2 separate regions of the Homo sapiens genome follow, and region 1 is linked to region 2. The links come from fine-mapping of genetic effects on gene expression. Tissue or cell type: whole blood. Region 2 holds a variant in brackets; the other region holds the start of a gene. All regions are shown on one strand. Distances are between the middles of the regions.

What was found. PIP is the estimated chance that this variant, and not a neighbour inherited with it, causes the effect.
Region 1: RCBTB1 starts here. The variant in region 2 is fine-mapped to the expression of RCBTB1 in whole blood (GTEx, PIP 0.90). The same link has a PIP of 0.9 or more in monocytes.

The regions. Positions count from the first base shown.
Region 1 is chr13:49,583,826-49,586,583 of GRCh38, reverse strand. It overlaps RCBTB1 (RCC1 and BTB domain containing protein 1), which reads left to right and starts at 1,026. Exons shown (of 13, transcript NM_018191.4): 1 at 1,026-1,140. RefSeq lists a silencer at 793-1,502.
Region 2 is chr13:49,526,119-49,528,876 of GRCh38, reverse strand. SETDB2-PHF11 (SETDB2-PHF11 readthrough) reads right to left here. Exons shown (of 21, transcript NR_135324.2): 20 at 2,419-2,490; 21 at 1-366. It overlaps PHF11 (PHD finger protein 11), which reads right to left. Exons shown (of 10, transcript NM_001040443.3): 9 at 2,419-2,490; 10 at 1-366. The coding sequence ends at 212. Among named protein-coding and RNA genes, the nearest start is that of PHF11, 32 kb to the right of the region's middle. The variant G/A (reference allele first, on the strand shown) is at 1,487.

The DNA.
Region 1 (2,758 bases), 58 kb before region 2:
GTAGCCAGAGCCTCCAGTAATGTTGGGGAAGTGGCAAGAGATGAGGGACGGTAGGACTTTTTTAATAATTCAAGTTACCAAAAGTGAAGTTATCTGGTGATATTTAGAAAATGAAATGTTTTTCTGTTTATTCCTAGGAGCTCAAATGGGAAAGGTAAGTGAACAAGTGGCTGGAATGCTATGCCAACAAGTTTGGATTTTATCCTGCAGCGCCAACTGGGAGTTCTCCGAGAGCTGTATGGTATTTTACAAAGGGACTGTAGTCTTTATAGGTGATAGGCTGGAGCAGCTCGTAGCAGTCCCTCTCCTGGCCTCAGTTTACTCGCTGGTAACACGAATCCGGTTGGACCAGATGCCCTCTTAGGTCCCGTCTAACCTCTATGGCATGCTTCCGAGGTACCTCTGCCTCTTTCCAATACCAGGACCTGTGCCTCATCTCGTCCTTCCTTCATACCTTTGTCCAGCTGCCACCTTCCCTAGTCCCTGGCCTGCCTCAGGTACTTTCAATCAGGAAGTGAGGGGCGGGGAGGGAGGGAGGCGCGTCTCCAGTAAAAACAAACTAGTCCCAGCTCCGCCGCCTTTCCTCCCAGGCAGCACCACCTGGGTGGTGCCCCGGGGCCAGACGCGCTCTAGAGTGGGCAGGGAGCCAAGTTTCTCGGTCGCTTTTCCGTCCTAGGTCTCTGGGGTGGTAGGCCGACCCTCCCCACAGCCAAGCCATCTCGGGGAGCAGAGCAGGAGCCCGTGCCTCGCGCGTTCCTGGTTCCTCAGACACAAAAGCCTCTAAGTCCCGGCAGCAGCCACCGGATTTCATGGGGACACTCCAGTGGCAGGGCCTCGGGGCGGGCCTGAGACGGCCAATCGGCTTCTAAAGAAGTCGGGTTGTAGGGCCCGAAGAGCAGGGTTTCGGCCGGGGCCGGGGCCGGGGCGGTGCGGGATGCTCGGCTGGGTAGCGTCCCGGGCGCGCGCTGCACCGGGTCACGTGAGGCGGCCGGGGCCACGTGACCCGGCGGGCCCGGCGCCCTGGCGCTCCTCCTCTTCGCTGCCGGTGGGCACCGCCGCTCGCTCGCACTTCTGCGCCCATTGGAGCTTCGGAGATCCCTGCGGTCCCGCGGGACGGCGCGGCAGCAGCTGACCTCGCAGGTAGCGTGTGGGCGCGGGGTCGAGCTCGCGGAGGCCTCTTCCCCCTCGGCCCTGCCCCTGCTTCCCTTCCCCGCAGGCCGGGCCGGGAGTGCCCCGTTACTCCTGTACCTCCCGCCTCCCTCGCTCGGGCTCCCGGGCAGTCCCTGCGGGCGCTGCGTCCGGGGCGAGGGATGGGGTCCCCGGCCCGGCCCCGCCAGCACCTCAGCTAATGTGCTCTCCTGCGAGGAGGAGGGAAGGATGGGGAGAGGCGAGGGAAAGTTTTCCCTGCCTCCCTCTCTTTTTTGAGGTGCACGGACTCGATTTTGCTCGTAGCTGAAGTCTGACTGCTGTGGGTGCCGTTTTACTGAGAGGAGATCTCCCCTCCGACTCTTCCTATTCTCTCTCCTTTCCAAGATCTTAGCATCTCTCCTTCGTCTCCTGAGAGTAGTGCTGTCACAAACCGTATTCTTTATCGTTTCCCTTTCCGACACAGAATCCACAAAGGCAGGGATTTTGTTAGTGAGGACTTTTATCCAGGCGTGCGGTGAACTCTAAATAAGTGACGTTTCCCTTGTCTGCCTCTGATAAAGTACCTACCTGCTCGGTTTAAGATGACTATCGAGCACGCTGTGTTCTGCTCGCATAAGTGGCCTTTTGTTTTTATTTATTTGCATGTAAGACACTTTCAAGCCATCTGCGGAACTCTGCAGCTGGGGATTACAATTTTATAAAGCAGTCTTGTAATAATGCTTTTAGAAAACCAGATTCATGATCTTCCTTGCTTTTGCCCTATTCTTTTTTTGGGAGGACTAAAAGCCCTTAGAGGACAAAAACTGAGTTTCTGAAACTGGTGTGTATTGTGGGCTAATAACATTAAAACATCAAAGTATATAATGCCGGAAGGAATGGAAAAATGATTGAATCCTGAGGGCAGTTTATAGGTGCTTTAAACTTTAGAGTACTCATTTCAAGTGAGCACTGGGTGAATTTCACCCGTTTAAACTGCTTTCAGGGTCGAGGATGTAACTGTATATTTGGATTCTATTAATATAACAGTTCATCTGTGGGATGGACTTTAATCCATTTAATCCATTGTGTGAATATCAGTCTATTTATTAATACTCTAGACGGGTCCTTTTTCTTCTACCCGCTAGTCTGTTTCTCTTGAAGAGGAAGCATATTCATCTTTAAAGAGATTTTTGCAAGTGATTTTTTTAAGTGTGTGATCCAAATGATAAAGTTCTGTGAACTTCAGAAAACAAGTAGCCATAAAAACCCAAAGCTGTCAAGCTTGTAGCTTTTAAAAAATGATTTGAAAATTTTAAAGCGTGCCCGTATGCTGCAGCAAGAACTTGGCTCCACCTAATATACGGGAGCTGGGAAGTCTGAAACAGTACCCTCCTTTTCCTGGGAGTCATTGTGGGGTAGATGAAACTGTGAAGGAAAGTGAGGACCTTTATTATGATGATGATATCCCTTCTGTGTGTACTACATTAAACAGTAAGTCATGCATAGGAAAGGAGGCTGGGGCCTCACAGAGTCTAGAATCTAGGCAGGGCATTCGGACACATTTCAAAATATTCTCTGGTTTTACAAAAAGTTAAAAATGTTACATATTGGCCAGGCGCAGTGGCTTACA
Region 2 (2,758 bases):
GAGCATACTAGGTGCTGGGAATGTGACAGTGAGCAAAAAACACAAGAGTGTGCAAAGAGTGATCAAAATGTCAACCAGTAAGAACAGGGAAGAGCTGCTGAGGCCAAGAGGAGACGACTAGTTCTAAAGATGTGTGGATTTCACAGCCTGGTCTCTGGTTTTGAGCCTGATTGCAATTTGACATGACTCTTGGCTTAGGAAACGGTAATCCCTAATAAGACAGGGATGATATTGATGTAGAACTTGACATAAGATCTCTATTTTCTTGAAAAGAGCACAAGGTTTGTTTTAAGTCCTGAAGTAGCTCAATCTCTTCCTTCAACTGCTGCCACCTTTGTTGAGATGCATGAATTTTTTTCTCTATTGCTATGAAAAGAAGAAATAAAATTATTTCAGCTTATTCAGTAGTTTTATTAGAAATAATGTACCATTTCTAGCCCCTTTCACTTGCAGGTACAGATACACAATCCTCGTGCCTCTGGTGAAAAGGATCCAGAGCCTTATGGGCAGGAGCTGGTTTCTTTATGCCTTCACTTCCTCCTTCTAATTCAGGACAGAATTCTAACATTTATCATACACAAAGCTGTTCAGTAAACCCTTAAGATTTTGTGCACATTTATAGCAGAACAAGTCCCTTTGTATATCTTTGAGAACTTGAAAACAGTGACTGTATAACCTTCATGCTATACTATATCCATTTATTGAGAGATGATAATTGGAGAATGTGGCTAGAATACCAAGGTTAAGGACAAATCCTTCCTAAAAATGTGTCCAATTTTTAATGTTACATAAAGGCTTTTGGTTTCATTTAGAAATAGGAAGGCTTTTAATTGTGGAAACTTAGAAAAGCTTAGGAGGAAGATACTTAGGCTTTATAAATAACAAATAGTAGTCAATGGCAATGTAATTTTTAAAAGCCTCAAAATCGAACAGTTACACACATATACAAACTTTATTCAGAATAACTGCATACGTATAGTTAACTTAAAATATGAGTAAGGCTAAATTAAGCAAGTTTTTATCAACCAGGGTAGTGAAACCCAACTTAAGCCTTTTAAGTTGAATCTCATGCAGTTCTAAGTAGTGGCACCCCCGCCATACTACACTATAATATATGTACTCCCACCTAATCCATCCAAGTAGTGATGTGTGACATGTTCCCTTACATGAAAGAAAAACACACATGGAAGTCCCCTACAAAATAACTCTTTTTAGAAAAAAATTTTTAAGGCTGCTTTAAAAAAATATGGATACTGCTATATATTAGCAGACATCCTCAAAAGACTATTAAGACAGACACTCTTTTTGGTAGATTTTTCAAAGTATTTTTCCTGCTGGTTATAAATGTAGTAAAAAATTCAAATAGAAATGTATAATATAGAAGCCAAAATGAGAAAGGTTGTGTATGTTGAGACAGGGATATGAACTAATGATTTCTTCACAGGGAAATCTTATTGTCTTCCTACCATATGCTGGAGAGACAGAT[G/A]CATCTGTGGAAATGCAGAGTGTGGAGGGCACTCACTCTGTTGTGCAACTTCAGGGGGAGCCATCCACCAATGCTGTTTGACTCTGTGCCCGGCCTGCCCAGCTGTGTGTGGCAGCCTTGATAGAGAAGTCAGACCAGACTCATAAACAAGTGGAGGTGTAGCCTGTCTTGAGGGCATCTTAATGCTGAAAGGAGGACTCACTCAATAAATGGTTGATATTTAATAGGAAGGTTAAATCTCCCTCCTCCAAACCAAACGAGATTTTCTACTGCAAACATTTCTTGGCTATTCTTACTTGCTCATTTTTTGTTTGTTTGTTTTTGTTTTTTTTTTTTCTGATGAACTTTAAATCAGTCGTAACCCTCCCTGATAAGAAATTAAATTAGATTTGAGGATTAATAGTGGGAGAATTAAAATTTTGACCTATCTCACCAAGCGAGAGGGAGGCAAGCGGAGGGATGGTTTATCATAGCCTCGCCACCCAAGAGCAGAGAAGCCGCAGGAAGCTTTACCAGCTCCTGCCTGGGCCACACACAGGCCAAAATATGCTCCAATTTTTGAATCAATTTTTTGTTGTCTCTACTTTTTTAATGAGTTTTTCTCATTATAAAAGTATTTGTGTGTATATAGAAAATCTGGAAAATATAGCAGTAAAAGAACAGACAAAAATCACTATATTCCAACTACCTACAACCAACTACTGTCTCCACCAGGTGCAGCTTTTGTCTGTGCACATGTACCTCGATATTTTTTTCCTGTGTGTGTGGGCAGGTGGGCGGGGTCATACTGTTTTTGTAATTGGCTTTTCTCATTTAAGAAAACAATGAACATTCTTCTAAAATATTTTTATCACCTGTACAGTATATTGTTTCAATATCGTGATAAATATTTCTCAAAACTATGCTGCTCAGATGTTATATAACTCATATACCTGCTTGAAAATTTACAAATGTGTCTTCGAACAATCTACAGTCAAAAAGTGCACTCCCGATTTCTTCATAGTCTGGAGGGAGAGAAACATTTTCAATATTAAACAGTTTGTATAGGCAGAAACTCCTCCATTTATATATGTAATCCAAAACAGGGGAAAGGAAAGAGAGCAGTCATGTGCCATGGAACTTTAATGTTAGATGGCAACAGCAGCAGCAGCACTACAGGGAAGCTGTCAGAAATGTAATTCTTGGCATTTCTCTTTTTTCTTTTTTTTTTTTTTTTTTTTTTGAGACAGAATCTCACCCTGTTGCCCAGACTGGAGTGCAGTGGTGCGATCT